Homo sapiens: one gene and its partners. The protein of the gene in region 2 purifies or fractionates together with the protein of the main gene of each other region. This does not show direct contact. Each region holds a gene or a part of one and is shown on either strand. Other genes may lie near its edges.

Region 1 (3,500 bases), on a different chromosome or scaffold from region 2:
TTTTTTTATTTTTATTTTTGTAGAGACAGAGTCACACTATGTTGCCCAGATTGATCTTGAACTCCTGGGCTCAAGTGATCCTCTAGCCTCAGACTCCCCAAAGTGCTGGGATTACAGGCACAAGCCACCACACCTAGCCTATAAAACAATCTTTAATATGCACTTTTTAACAGCTGCATATTTTCCTCTGGATATTAATTTATTCAACTAACCCTGTTATTTCTGCATATTTGGGTTGCTTCTCCTTTTTTTATTATAAACATCCTTTCATATAAAGCTTTAAGTACCTATGAAAACATCCATAGGATAAATTTGTAGAATTAATGAGTCAATGAATAAAAACAATTTTAAGACTTCTGCAGCACACTTCTATTGGCATTTATTTCGAAACTGCCTTAAAATCACTCTCTAATTGTTATCCAACGGATTCCCTGAAGTCTAAGTAGTTTATCAAGACTCTCTCATTAGTCTGCCTCTTGTTTTTCCAGGTCATAAAGTCTATTACCAAAATTAAGAATCCATGTTTCTGGCCCGGCACGGTGGCTCACGCCTGTAATCCCAGAACTTTGGAAGGCCAAGGCGGGCGGATCACAAGGTCAGGAGATCGAGACCATCCTGACTAACATGGTGAAACCCTGTCTCTACAAAAAATACAAAAAATTGGTCGGGCGTAGTGGCATGCACCTGTTGTCCCAGCTACTCGGGAGGCTGAGGCAGGAGAATTGCTTGAACCCGGGAGGCAGAGGTTGCAGTGAGCCAAGATCTCGCCACCGCTCTCCGCCCTGGACAACAAAGCAAGACTCCGTCTCAAAAAAAAAAAAAAAAATCTATGTTTCTGAGGGTTCTCTTTTGAAGTAATCATCTTTTATATGAAGAAATGGCTAGCAACAACTTAATTTGCAAACTGAGCATTTTGATCTTAAAGCAATTATTAGTTTTTATACAAATAAAATATACTTGACTCAGTTATTTTAAGTTACATGGATCCCAGAAAGACAACATGAAAAGTAGAAACATTTGTATTACGTCAAACGCTCTGTAAGACAATATCACAGAACTTTAAACTTTTAATATGAATTTGTGACCAACAACCATGTAATTGTTCAAACAACTTCAAATACCTTATTTTACTTACCAGTTGTATAGCTATCATGAGAACTGTTTTAAGAGAAAATGTTCTGTCACACAAGTCAAACAAGTCTTCCAAACTAGGTCCCAGCAGTTCCAGCACCATAGCATTGTATTTACCACAAGGGCCGAAATAGTAAACTTGAGGTATACCATCTGGGGGAAAAGAAATACTCATTTAATAATTTCATCATCTTAAATACTAAGGTTTTCCTCTTAAAAACTGATATTTAAAATTTTATAGTTTCAAGAACTAAAGCAGTACTATCACTTTTTCCAGATACATACTTTTCCTGACCAAACCTCCCAACCTCCCAATACCTTCTCTTTGATGTTCACATTGTAGCCTGGATACACCTCTATTGCAGCTGCATGACTGAATTACATTATAAACAGTACTTCATTGTTTCTCTCTACCACCTTATTACTGGACAAAAGCTGGGCTTTTTAGCTTTATATTTCCATGGCCTGGAGAAAGGCTTAGCACATAGGAGAGATTCCAGTTCTACTGAAAAGAGAGTCACTACTGGCTTTAATAACCATGTGATAGGCATACTGCTAAGATCACCACTGTCAAGATTCCCATCCTCTGGCTTATACACCTTGTATAAACCCCTCCCTTTGAACGTGAGCATGATTCCTGGGATCTCACTATTGTGACCAGGCTAACTTATACGGCAAATGTAATTAAGGCTCCTATCAGTTGACTGTAAGTTGATCAGAAGGAAGAGAATCCTGGTGGACCTGACCTATTCAGGTGAGACTTTAAAAAGATAGTCTAGAAGTCAGAGATATTGGAAACAGCAGAGAAACTCTCCTGCTGGCCTTAAAGTAGCAAACCACCATGCAGTGGAGGGAGCCACATGCCAGATAGGAATCCTTGAGGAAGTAAGGGCCACACAGTTCTATTGCCATGAGGAATTGAATTCTGACAAGAATCAGTGAACTTGGAAGAGAGCACTGAGGCTCATGTAAGATTGCAGTCCAGGCTTACACCTTAATTTCCACATGGTAAGACTCTAAACAGAAGACCCAGCAAAGCCATGCCCGTATTCCTGACCCATAGAAATTGTGAGATAATAAAGTCTTTCATCTTAAGCCAGTAAGAGATAGTAATAATTCATTATGAAGCTATATAGAATAATACAAACTCCAAATATGAAGTCTGAATAATACAAACTCCAAATATGAAGTCATCTGTATTTTATTTTCAGAACTAACAGACTCCCAATAAACTGAAATGTAAGTGATCAATTTACTTTATATGGAAGTTGTCAGAATCAAAACAGAGTCACTTGTATTAAAACCCTGACAAACAGAGCTAGGGAAGGAGATGAAGGGAGGGTTCTCACACATATATATATATATGCCTGATAAGAAGAACTACCACAAAAGACTGCAAAAACCACAACCTGGAACAAAAGCCACCACAACTTTACAAAAAATTACTCTGTGAGGACATCTGCCCAGGAACTGCCTGTCCAACTTCAGACTGAGGCCATTCTTGTTAATGATCCTTGTAGCCAAGGGTAACTCTCTCAAAACAACTTATGTGACCCTCCTCATTTTTCCTTTAAAAACTCTTGTCTTCCTTTACCTCCCTGAATATACTCACATATATTCCCATTGTAATGCCCACTCGTAAATAACTATCATTTTCTTTTAGACAAGTCTCCCTATTATTTAGTTTGACACTTAACACTGCATTTATCTATTAGCATGAAAAAATGAACTTCTTCCACCACAAATGTCTCAGTTTTACTTCCAAGTGATTTTTTTTCAGTATATTGAAAGAGAAAACAAATCTAATGAAAACTTCTCATTCTTTTTAATAAAACGTTTTTTAAATATAACATTATTATTATTTACCCTATTATTTTGAATATAAATCATTGCAGGACAGAATAGAAAACACTGAACTAAAAACCAAGAAAACTACATTCTTAGTCTAACCTAATATTCATCAGCTGTGTGGCTAGCTTGTCATTCAACCTCTCAAGTGGGCCTCAGTTTACTTATCTATTATAATATTAGTGATTTGGATGAGACAAGTATTTCTCAGATATGAATATGAGTGAGGCAGCAGAACATCTGCAGGTGGGAATGTAAGCTAGTGTAATCACTGTAGTCCCAGCTACTCGGGAGGCTGAGGTAGGAGAATCACTTGAACCCAGGAGGCGGAGATTGCAGTGAGCCGGGACTGCGCCACTGCACTCCAGCCTGGGCGACAGAGCAAGACTCCTTCTCAAAAAAACAAAACAAAACAAAACAAACAAACAAAAAAAGATAGTGTAATCATAGCAGGAATGGATACAAATTCAAACTGCATACATGGTGCCCTCCCCAGAAACAGAGATTCTGATACACCCCAA
Region 2 (4,279 bases):
TTCAGACGTGAGTTAGTGCCTGTATCTTCCAGTTCCTACATGAGGGTAAGAGACTAAATTAGTGGGTATGGGCGCCTTGCTCCAATTTGTAAAACTACCTCCTGCTATAAAGATATGCGAACTTTGGCCGGCTGCGGTGGCTCACACCTGTAATGCTAGAACTTTGGGAGGCCAAGGAGGGCAGATCACGAGGTCAGGAGATCGAGACCATCCTGGCTAACACGGTGAAACCCCGTCTCTACTAAAAATACAAAAAAATTAGCCAGGCGTGGTGGCGGGCGCCTGTAGTCCCAGCTATTCGGGAGGCTGAGGCAGGAGAATCCCTTGAACCCGGGAGGCGGAGCTTGCAGTGAGCTGAGATCACGCCACTGCACTCCAGCCTGGGTAACAGAGCAAGACTCCGTCTCAAAAACAAAAAACAAACAAACAAAAAGATATGCGAAGTTTAAAAAACGAACAACAACAACAAAAAGTTATGCGAAGTTTGTTTTGCTTCTGGATAAAGCCAACATGAGTGGTCTCCCCAATTACTACTATTAAGTAAGGAGGAACTATGTTTGACAAAAGGTGTTGTCAAGTTCTGTTATTTGAAGACTAGTGATTGTTTATCTTGAGAACAGGTATGTAATGGTTGTTGTGGAGATTTTCTGGATTAAGAGAAGTTTTTTTTCTTTAAAATTCGAACAAGTGTCTGTATTTTTTCCCTTTATTTAAGAAACGGTGGCGGCGGTGGTGGTGGTGGATGGGGGGCGGCTCTCACTACCTTGCCCAGGCTGGTCTCAAACTCTTGTTCTCAAATGATGCTCCTACTTCGGCCTCCCAAAGTGTTAGGATTACAGGTGTGAGACACTTGTGTTGGATTTTTTTTTTTTGGAGGCAGGGTCTCGTTCTGTTGCCCAGGCTGGTGCAGTGGAGCAATCACAGCTGCCAGCCTCAAACTTTTGGGCTCAAGCGATCCTCGCACCTCGGTCGCCCCAGTAGCAGGGACCACAGGCACATGCCACTACTCCTGGCTAATTTTAACATTTTTTGTAGAGATGGGGTCTGGCTATGTTGCTAAGGCTGGTCTTGAACTACTGGGTTCAAGTGATCCTCCCTTCTCGACCTCCTAAAGTGTTGGATTACAGGCGTGAGCCCACTGTGCCCGGCCTGCATTTAATTAGACACCTAAAATTTAGGCCGGTCAGTAGCACACTTAGCAGCACGTTACTTTTTATAAAAACAAAGACCGAATACCGCTTTTTTGAAAAAAAAAAAAAAAAAAAAAAAAAAAGGATGCACCAGTTCTCCCCATATCATTTCTTCTCTCTACCTCTCGTCTTTTGCAGCTAACATTACTGGCCAGGTCCGCAGCAGCAGAGTTCTGTGGGCTCCCAGCCTCCGCCCTCCTCGCCCTCCTCCGCGCCGGCAGGTGAGGCCGCGTGGCGGGACTACAACTCCCAGCGTGCCCCGCGACGGGAGGGTCACGTGGGCGTCCGGAAACCCTGGTCGCACCGCCAGGGGTGAGCTGGCGGCGGGGGAGGCGGGCAGCGGAGCCAAGCTGACCCGGCGAGCGGAGCCGGGGCTGGAGAGCGGCGACCACTGCGGATCTCGGGTGCGCAAGCGGTGATGCGTGGGGCCGAAGACCTGCTGGGGCGGGGGCGGGTCCAATCCGAGGGGCTTCCCGGGTCGGGAGGGCGGTGGGGAGATGTAGGTGGCGGCCCCCCTTGGGTGGGGCGCCCAGGCAGGGTCGGCCGCTCGCCCCCTCCTTCTCCTCCCTGGGCCCGGGCCTGGGGTCCCGGCCGTCACGGGGAGGCTGCGATGGGGTGGATGGGGAGGAGAAGGACCCCCGGGGGACCCTGCGGCCCGGCCCCGATCCATGCGGCAGAGGCTTTTGTGCTCCTCGCCCGCCTGTCCTCCGGCCGTGGGTCTGGGAGATTCTGACTTGATCAGAAAAGGGCTTGTCGTTCGGACCAGGGGAGAGGGGATGCTTTTCAGGTAGGTGGGGAAGGAAGCTCTTTGGAAAGGATGTATAGAGGTCAGAGAAGAAGCGTGGTCTCAGTGAGTGACTGGTTTTGTTTTCTGGTAACTAGCATGAACTCAGTCAAGGAATTTGGTCAAATTATTCGTCATTCCCTCCTTATTCTTCGCAGGGTGTGTTCTGTTTATTCTCAGTTTTGACAGGAGATAATGGGAATGTGTCCCCGGAGTTTTTAGTGTTTTTTTGAAATGTAAGATGGTAGGCTATCTCGTGGTAACTCTTACTGAAAAGTTTATAGTTTATAGGGAGGAGTGGTTCCTGGGGTGAGCAAAATCATTCAGTTGTTATCTTTTTGTCCACCGGTTTATTTCTACCTTTACACAAATTTATACATACATAAATATATATAACAGTTGTTGAAGGGAATGTCTTCAGTGCTTTGGTGCTTAAATGATTTCTTTTCAGTTTGTTTGATGTTTCTTGGATACTAGGCTCTATACTAAGAACTCCATATAAATTATCTCATTTAATTAATACATGAGGAAATTGAGCTTCGGGTTGGGCGCGGTGTCTCATGCCTGTAATCCCAGCACTTTGGGAGGCCGAGGCCTGTGGATTCCTTGAGGTCAGGAGTTCAAGACCAGCCTGGCCAACATGGTGAAACCCCGTCTCTACTAAAAATACAAAGATTAGCTGGGCGTCGTGGCGCATGCCTGTAATCCCAGCTACTCGGGAGGCTGAGGCAGGAGAATCGCTTGAACCTGGGAGGCGGAGGTTGCAGTGAGCCGAGATCACACCACTGCACTCCAGCCTGGGTGACAGAGCCAGACTCTGTCTTTTTTTTTTTTGAGACTGAGTTTTTGTTCTTGTCGCCCAGGCTGGAGTGCCGTGGCACCATCTCGGCTCACTGCAACCTCCGCCTCCCGGGTTCAAGTGATTCTCCTGCCTCAGCCTCCCGAGTAGCTGGGACTACAGGCGCCCGCCACCACGCCAGGCTAATTTTTGGATTTTTAGTAGGGACGGGGTTTCACCATATTGGCCATGATGATCTGGATCTCCTGACCTCGTGGTCCGCCTGCCTTGGCCTCCCAAAGCGCTGTAATTACAGGCGTGAGCCACTGCGCCCGGCCTCAGACTCTGTCAAAAAAAAAAAAACAAAAAAAAAAACAGAAATTGAGATTCAGAGAAGCTACTTTTAAGTGGAGGGTCTTAGATTCCATACCTGGCTTGTCTCTTGAATGACACCATTCTTCTATTAGTGTTTGATTTCGAGTCTCTGCCTAAGAAGGTGACCCGGAAACAATACTTTTATAAAAGTTAAGTCAACAGTATCTTGCTGCTTTCTAGCTGTCAGGATCAACTGCCTTGTTCATTGTTTAAGGTTCTGATTTGTGCTCTGTTCATCAGTGTTAATGTCATGTCACTGCAGTGACCATTAACTTGATTATAAATCCTTTGGTAGAAGAGGGAAAGATTTTTATCTTGAAAACTAGTTGTCTTTGGAACATGTCCAAAAACAGGGAGGAAGAATGTGGTTTTGGAAACCCTGGAATAAAATGAGAGATATTTACAGATAAATGCCAAGTATTTTATGCCTGTGGTAATGAGATAATTTAAGAAGAGATAAAAATTACAGGAAGACGGATGAATTAATGAATAAAAAGGATTTATGAGGTTCAAGTAAATGGCTTCGTATGAGATAATGTGGGATAAAAAAGATACTTGTGGCTGGGTGCAGTGGCTCATGCCCATAATCCTAGGGCTTTGGGAGGCTGAGGCAGGAGGATCTATCTCTTAAGGCCAGGAATTTAAGACCAGACTGGTTAACATAGCAAGACCCTGTTTCTACAAAAACTAAGAAAATTAGCCAGGTGTGATGGTGCCCACCTGTAGTCCCAGCAACTTTGGAGGCTGAGGCAGGAGGATCGCTTAAACCTAGGAAGGAGATTGAGGCTGCAGTGAACTATGATCACGCCACTGCACTCCAGCCTGGGTAACAGAGTGAGACCCTGTCTCTGAAAAAAAAAAAAAGATAGTTGTATGAGTGTGAGCATTGAGACGCTAAACTGCAACATATACAATACTGTAAAAATGGTGAACTCAACTATACATTTAATAATTTCCCACATTCTTCTTTACACTTTGAAAACACATAATCTTTTTACTGTGCAGACATAAAAACTGAAGTCTGGGAGGTGAGTAATTGCCCATCTAATGCCCCTCTCCTTTGAGTGTGTAAGAGAACCACTCTTACCAGTAAGATGTTTTTTTTCCCCATCCTTGGTATATACCTCTGAGTTTAGGTGTGCTAGTTCTTTT
Region 3 (3,500 bases), on a different chromosome or scaffold from region 2:
GTTCTTGCTCTGTGATCTTTTCCGCTCTGTCACTCTACATTTCTGCCTCCCCAGAGGAAAAGATAAACCTTGATCATAGTTTATGGATTAGAACCTTTGCACATTTGCAAGGCTTGTTCTACAGAGGCATATCAGAATCATTTTTATTGTTAATATTTTTACCCAGGGTGTGTCCCTTACTGCGCAGAGGGCTGCTATTGTTGTTGGTGTGGAGCTGCCGGTCTATGACATCACCAAGAAGCATCTTATTCTCTCAGGCCTGATGGGAGACACTGTGTATACCCACTTCCTGTATGTTCATGGCTTTTTTTAAAAAATTATAGAAATTCTAAAGAAAGTTTATTATAAAAGTATTATATTCTTATATTTGAAAAGTTGCAATGCAGAAGTGAAGCAGGACCAGGTAGAAGTCCTTATTCCTCTACATAGGCAGCTGTTGTTAACAGTTTGATATGTATCTTCCAGGCGTTTTCTACGTGTATGCAAATATGTCTACAAAAGTGTATTATATGAACTTTATTACACAAATAAGATCATGTTTTACATTCTTTTATTTGCTTTTTAGAATGTAACAACAGGCTGGGCACAGTAGTTCACGCCTGTAATCTTAGGACTTTGGAAGGCCGAGGCAGGAGGATCACTTGAGCCTAGGAATTCAAGACCAGCTTGGGCAACAAAATGAGGCCCCATTTCTACAAAAAATTAAAAAATTAGCTGGGCATGGTGGTGCATGGCTATGGTCCCAGCAACATGGGAGACTGAGGCAGGAGGATTGCCTGAGCTCAGGAAGGTGAGGCTGCAGTGAGCCTTGACTGGGCGACGGAACCCTAGCCTGGGCAACAGAGAAAGACCCTGTCTCTAAAATAAAATGCGATTTAACAACATATTCCAAATATCTTTGAGTGCTTACAGACTTCGTGTCAGTACTTACGGACTTTATTTATTTATTTATGTGAGACGGGGTCTCACTGTTACCCAGGCTGGAGTGCAGTGGTGTGATCTCGGCTCACTGCAACCTCTACCTCCTGGGCTCAAGTGATCCTCCTGCCTCAGCCTTCCAAGTAGCTGGGACTGCCGGCGCATGCCACCACACCCGGTTAATTTTTGTATTTTTTGTAGAGCTGAGGTTTTGCCATGTCACCCAGGCTGGTCTTGAACTCCTAGACTTAAGTGATCCACCCGCCTCAGCCTCCCAAAGTGCTGGGATTACAGGTGTCAGCCATTGCCGGCCTGGCCTTCATTTATTTTTAATAGCTGCAGATTATCACATTGTATGGATATATCATACATATATATTATCATTCATATGTGTGTGTGTGTGTGTGTGTGTGTGTGTGTGTATATATATATATATATATAATCATACATAATCCATTGGTGGGCAATGTGTGGAGACTGTTCTGATTGTCACAACCAGGGGGGAATACTACTGACATCTAGTGGGGCCAGGCCAGGGATATAGCTAGTGCTGAGGTTGAGAAACTTTGCTCTGGGTTAATTGATATAAAGTATGGTCTGTGGTAGTCTTGTGGGACTGAAAATATAGCAGAACCTAAGACCTTTGCGGGGCATTATAGTAAGGAGATCTTTTTCTTTGATATCTAGGAAATGATATAATTATGATATGGCTAGAATTACTCTGATGTCCACTTACAGGTAAATAGATGGAAAAGATCATCCTTGGAGGATTTCCTTTATGTTTTATGATCCTTTGACATTCTAGAATGTCAGGTATTCTTAGCTGTCGCTGGGATTTATCAGCTAGTATAATCGGTGCTAATATGTAAGCAGTTTATCAAGCTCTCTAGATATGGCTCTTCTTGACATGTTTCATGTTGATACATGTTAGTTCAACATAGTTTTGGGGCTGGGCATGGTGGCTCATGCCTGTAATCCCAGCACTTTGGGAGGCCGAGGTGGGCAGATCACTTGAGGTCAAGAGTCTGAGATCAGCCTGGCCAACATGGCGAAACCCCGTCTCTAATAAAAATACAAAAAAAATTAGCTGGATGTGGTAGAGTACACCTGAAATCCCAGCTACTTGGGAGGCTGAGGCAGGAGAATCGCTTGAACTTGGGAGGCAGAGGTTGCAGTGAGCCAAGGTCACACCATTGCACTCCAGCCTGGGCAACAGAGCAAGACTTCGTCTCAAAAACAAAACAAAACAAAACAAAACACGAAAACCACAAACAAGAAAACCCCATAGTTTGGGCAGAAGCTGTTTTCTGCCTTTGATGGTGGTTGTAGCTCAGTGATGGTTAACTTTTTTTTTTTTTTCCAATGGTGTCTTTATAGCTCAAGCTTCACCTGTGGTCTGGCAGGGGCCCTGGCCTCAAACCCTGTTGATGTTGTGAGGACACGTATGATGAATCAGAGAGTGCTTCGAGATGGCAGATGTTCTGGCTACACAGGAACCCTGGATTGCTTGTTACAGGTAAGAGCAGATGTCTGTCTCTGCAGGGTTGTGAATTATATATTTTTTTGATCTAAGAAGTAACTAAATTATGAAAGCTACTAAAACTAAGATGAATGATGCTTTAAAGCCCAGAGATGTACATGTGTGAGACCATTTTTGCCACACTGTGCTTAGCTTTTATAAATACAATGTTGTTTTCTTTATACCTCCATCTGCTGTGAAAGGTGAGGAAATATTTCCTGTGATTATAAAAGAACTGGGTCTCCTTCCAAAATGTACTTTCTTCCTGTTGGGTCAAACTAGTATGAATATCCCTCATTCAGACATCTCTGTTAAAGGAACACATCAATCTTACTTTAATTCTCAGTTTAAATAATTGGGCCTCCTGTTTTATGAGTGGGTGAAAGGTTTCACCTGTCTCTGCCACTAGATTGCCAGTAGTAGGATTAGGAGTCACTTTTTTTTTTTTTTTAAGGTGATATTTATTTATTTATTTTCAAGTTTTAATGTATTTTAGATTCAGGGGGTACATGTGCAGGTGTGTTACATAGGCACATGCGTAGTGGTGGAGATTGGGCTTCTAATGTACCCATTACCCAAATAGTGAGCATTACACCAGACAGATAATTTTTCAACTCTAGCCTCTCCCCTTTAGGAGTCCCCAGTGTCTGTTACTTCTATCTTTATGTCCGTGTGTACCCATTGTTTAGCTCCCACTTAAAAATGAGAACATGTGGTTTTTGATCTTCTGTTTCTGCGTTAGTTTGCTCAGGATAATGGCCTCCAGCTCCATCCATGTTGCTGCAAAGAACGTGATTTCTTTTTTATGGCTACAGGGGCCACTTTTGTGGTTCCTGTTTTCCAACATGACACTAGCACATTTTATTCTTCAGGTGTTGCCTTAATGAAGCAAAGACACTTATCGTATTCATCCACCTGACATCTTGGGAAATAGTGGTACTCTGAATGATATCTCTACCACTATTGCTTCTTTATTTGTGACCTGTTCAGGAGCCCACATGGCACGGAAGCAACAGACCGTAATTGGAATTAAATCTAATTTTTTCCTCACTCAACAGTGTTT
Region 4 (4,171 bases), on a different chromosome or scaffold from region 2:
GAATGAAAGGAGAAAATAAATGATAAGAGTTCCACCAACACTTCAGTAGGGAGTTGTCTGAAATCTTAATTGTGAACCTTTTTTTCACAAGATGCACAGTCTTCTAGAGATTTTGCTAGTGGAACGGGTGTGTGAGCTGATCATTATATGGAATTGAGACACATCAAATGCCATTAAAATTTACATTTACAACTCGAGTAACTAAATGCATTGATTCTTTTCATATTAAAAGACACTTGGTATTCACTGAATAATGAAAAATGCCACGGAAAAAATTATGTATTAACAATACAACCTGCCTAAAGGGTCAGAATTCTGCTACACACCTTTTGCTTACCTTTAAATAAATATTTAGGTGTGTTAAGAGCAGGGCAATTCTTGAACGGCACGATGTTGTTTGGTTTAATGTCTTTATAAAAATATTTGAAAAGGTATGGAAAATGAGGTGAGAGTGTTGTGGATTTAAAAACATGTGTATACATAGATACACAATTATTAAAACTTTAGACAAGGACGTTTTCTTCCTGGGAGTGGAGAGCCACCAGCGCGGGAAGTCTGCTGCAGGGATGAACAAAAGCATGGCTGCACGATAGTATTATCTTTGCAGCAGCAGCAGGCGCCCTGACGGAGGGTTGCGGCGACTGTCTAGTCTATCACACCGCACTTCTGGTAGTGACAACCTCCGTTATTCTGTCAGCTCAGCCGACTAAGTGGTTCCCCGCGTTCTGCCTGGTCACCTTGTCTCCGTTAAACGGGAAGCAGAAAAGAGAAAGGTGAATTGAGGGGGTACAAGGAGATTCCTCCGCCTTGGGACCGGCGTCGCCCCATCCTCTGGAAGTGTTGAGCGGGGAGAATTCGAGGACCGTATTTAACCCAGAAAACAGTAAGCCCTCTGAATTAGCTGCTACGCCTGGGGAAGGCAGAAAAGTCTTAATCGTCCCTTCCCAGCAGGGACCAAGAAAGACCAGTTAGAGCGAGCCTGGCCGGACCACGCGAGCCCCGGACCTCTCCGATCCTTCAGAGCCCGCGCCGGGCAAAGTAGAGGTCAAGTCAACACACACGACCGCAGGGCAGCCCTCCCACTCTCCCGTGCGGTCCGCAGCTCGGCTTCGGAACGACCACCGCTAACACTGCAAGGCTGTAAGGCTGGGAGGGGGCGGGTCCTGAAGGGGGCGGGAATAAGAGGCGGGGCAGAAGGGCGGAGGAGTGTGTCGGGAGATGTAGTTCCGCGAGTCCCGACAGCAAAGCTGTCCCGGCTCCGCTAATAGATTGGGACCACTACTCCCAGGAGTCTGCGCGCCCGACCGGAGCGTCCATGCGCAGTGGGAGCCACTTTGTATCCTATCAGGCGAGGAGAGGGTGATGTCACCTGCGAGTTAGTAACCTACGAGCGGCTGTGAAGGAAACTGTTTAACCGGATCCCATTGTACCCAGAGTGCAGAGCCGCCTTTCCAGCATGCAGGGGCTGCTCAGGTAAGGGGGACGCTCCTCCTTGCCCGCCGCACTCATTCATTAAGTGGCACTGCTCAGTGGTGCGGGGGTGGGCGTGCTTCCGTGGGCTGGGCGCTGGGTTCGCGGCGCGCCCTCCTGCTGCCTCCCCGGAGCTCCCGGGCCAGTAGGTAAATATTAAACCCGTCCTTCAGGTTGGGTCTGGGTGGGAACGGGACCGAGACAGCTCTCGGCTGCCTAGCTGGGGGTGGGAAAATGGCTGCAGCGCAACGCAAACCGAGGCAGCAGGGAGGAAGACGCCCCCAAGGACTGGGGTCCCTCCCTTTCTTTCTAAGGCGCCCGGCTGGCCGAGGAGCTGGCGGGGTAACACTCGCCGCCTTGCTGAAGGCTCCCCGGGGCTGGGGCCGCGGGTACTGCAGCGGCGTCCGCGAGCTCCCGGCCCGGCGGCTCCGAGAGGGAGAACCCCGAGGCAGGCTTGGTGGACACGGCGGTGGCGACAGGGAAGGAGGGACTCGTGTACCCGTTCGCGTCCGAGCAGAGCCCCCAGTGCCCCTGGCACCCTCACTTCCAGCCCCATTCGAAAGGGACGGAGCGCCTGTAATTCAGACTAAGTTGGACCTAAATGTTTCAAAACAGAGAGAAGGGAAATCGGGCGTTGCGGAGGGAGAGCAGGGTGTTGGCGGCCGGGGAGGCTGCGCCGCCTGCGGACCCGGTTGTGAGGCACCGCAGAGGGCTTTTGCCGCCCGTCCCTCTCGGGAGGGCGCATCTCAGTCTCCACGGTCCCTTGGTGTAGAGCACCTGGGCTGGGGCGAAGCGCCTGCCCTGAAGCCCTGGGCCAGGAGGTGGTAGCGCGGGGGTGGAGGTGTCGGATAATCTAATGATTAGGCTCGCTGTGGGGCAGGAGGGCTGGATAATCGGGTTTACCCAGCTGGTTCTGAAAGCCAACTGCTTGTGATCGGCTTGCCCTCTGAGTGGAGACGTGCAGGAGGCCCAGAGCTCTCAGTCCTCTGGATGTTCTTTGCCTTTCCTAGTACCTTCATTTGTTCGTTTACTCATTCATCAAACCCTGCTAAGGTCTCAAGTTGTTCACGGCCTGGCTTTGCGGAGCTACCTCTCGCCCCATAACATATTTAGTGATGCCTGAACTCCATTCCCCTCTCCTTCATCTCCACTTTCTGGAGAGCATCAAGAGCAAATGCCACCGTGACCGTTTTGCTGGTAGTTTCTTGAGATTCGAGCAGGACCCAGTGAATCGAAGCGGAGTTGCCTGCAAGATGAATCCCGTTGCCATGGCGACTCCTGCCTTCGGAATCTTAGCCGCTGCCACTGCTGTTTCGATTCGATGTGGCTCTGCGGGCAGCTGGGAGGGAGTGGCTAGTGGGTGTGGTCAAACGCTCGCCCTGGCCCAGCTGCTCTCTCCTCCTCGCCCCTTTCACAGCCCCGGGACTCTCCCCTTTCTCTCCTAAATAGCTTGGACACAGTTCTAAACCCCTTTCCCTTCCCCGTGCCACACCTCATCACGCCACCTCTCTCCCTGAAACTAATTGTTTGGCGCCTTTTTCCTGAGGCAAACTCTGAAAATTATAATTTGAAAAATCTCTTCCCCCTTTCGGGCTAGCCGCATCATTTCCCCAATAAGGTAGTTTATGGTGTTGGAGGCAGCTTTGTCATGAAAGGCGCCCTCCCCTGTTGTGCATAAAGAGAGCTCTCTGGTCACCAGCAAAGGCCCTCAATTTGCTCTAGGTGCAGCTGATTGGAAGTGATTAGGGACAATTAATAACGGCTGGAAGACACTGCAGTCCCTTGTGGTTCTCATAAAATCTAAAGCCAGGCTAGAGGGCGCAGGTCCTTGAGGGTGAAGCATGCAGGGCCATAACCAGGAGCCTTGGGTCCTACTCTGGCTCTGTCAGTCACTGGCTACTCCACGTTGGGATTAACCCTTTACCTCTGGGAACCTCAGTCTTCTCTTTGGTAATGTGAGGAAAGGGTAGAGAGGGTTTCCTAACGTTAATTCTAGGCGCAATGGCCTATGATTCCAAGATAGACTTGGTCATTGTCCTTTTTCGTCCCCGACCCCAAAGTAATCTGAAGTTAAGGGTTTAAACTTGGCTTCTGATACTGTGCCGTCAGGTTATATGGACAAGGCAGCTATGTGACTATTTATAATACTGTTTATACTACCACTACTATTATTCCAGTATCTGGACCCTTCTAATTATACTTTAGTATTATAACTAATTGTTTAGGTTTTGCCTTTTTATAGATTCCTAATGAATGCAGTTATTTGTAATTGCATTAAGTGTAATTGACATATAAATATTTTGTTTCCCCTCTGCTTGCATTTTATACCAATGTGCATTATCACAGATGTTGCAATTATGGGGGAAAGTGTGTATATGAGAGTGTCTGTGCATGTGTATCCATAGTCAGGTAAATGCTTGGGATTGCTGTGTGCTTGGTGGTTGACACTTACGATCTTATTTTAAGTAGGTAGCTACATCCCCATGAGGAAACAGGATCAGAAGTTGTCACTTTTTTCCTGGAACTTACCATTAAATGAAAATTTCCTTCATTCTTCTGCTTGTCTACCCTACTAGATTATAAGCTCCTTGAGGGCAGTGTCTTTGTTTTGTCCTTTTCTGTCCCCCCAGCATTTAGAGCAGTTTGTTCATTTGTAGGTCTTTAATAAATATATGTTAAACGAATATTAAGTAGCAGAACT

The links. Proteins that work in one complex are often made in the same cells at the same time.
Region 1: the proteins of SLC37A3 (region 2) and CSNK1G3 purify together in Homo sapiens (affinity purification with mass spectrometry; 2 studies listed by BioGRID and IntAct, with this or other methods). This does not show direct contact.
Region 3: the proteins of SLC37A3 (region 2) and SLC25A30 purify together in Homo sapiens (affinity purification with mass spectrometry; 2 studies listed by BioGRID and IntAct, with this or other methods). This does not show direct contact.
Region 4: the proteins of SLC37A3 (region 2) and DAAM1 purify together in Homo sapiens (affinity purification with mass spectrometry; 3 studies listed by BioGRID and IntAct, with this or other methods). This does not show direct contact.

Annotation. Positions count from the first base shown.
Region 1 is NC_000005.10:123,571,177-123,574,676, reverse strand, and holds part of CSNK1G3 (casein kinase I isoform gamma-3), read right to left. Parts: intron 1,285-3,500; coding exon 1,136-1,284; intron 1-1,135. UniProt on the Homo sapiens protein: Serine/threonine-protein kinase. Casein kinases are operationally defined by their preferential utilization of acidic proteins such as caseins as substrates. It can phosphorylate a large number of proteins. Participates in Wnt signaling.
Region 2 is NC_000007.14:140,395,731-140,400,009, reverse strand, and holds the start of SLC37A3 (sugar phosphate exchanger 3), read left to right. Parts: upstream 1-1,479; 5' UTR 1,480-1,594; intron 1,595-4,279. UniProt on the Homo sapiens protein: Unlike the other SLC37 members, lacks glucose-6-phosphate antiporter activity.
Region 3 is NC_000013.11:45,397,874-45,401,373, reverse strand, and holds part of SLC25A30 (kidney mitochondrial carrier protein 1), read left to right. Parts: intron 1-166; coding exon 167-291; intron 292-2,295; coding exon 2,296-2,434; intron 2,435-3,309; coding exon of another isoform or gene 3,310-3,321; exon of another isoform or gene 3,322-3,487; intron 3,488-3,500. UniProt on the Homo sapiens protein: Antiporter that transports inorganic anions (sulfate, sulfite, thiosulfate and phosphate) and, to a lesser extent, a variety of dicarboxylates (e.g. malonate, malate and citramalate) and, even more so, aspartate.
Region 4 is NC_000014.9:59,187,296-59,191,466, forward strand, and holds the start of DAAM1 (disheveled-associated activator of morphogenesis 1), read left to right. Parts: upstream 1-1,371; 5' UTR 1,372-1,473; exon of another isoform or gene 1,474-1,619; intron 1,620-4,171. UniProt on the Homo sapiens protein: Binds to disheveled (Dvl) and Rho, and mediates Wnt-induced Dvl-Rho complex formation. May play a role as a scaffolding protein to recruit Rho-GDP and Rho-GEF, thereby enhancing Rho-GTP formation. Can direct nucleation and elongation of new actin filaments.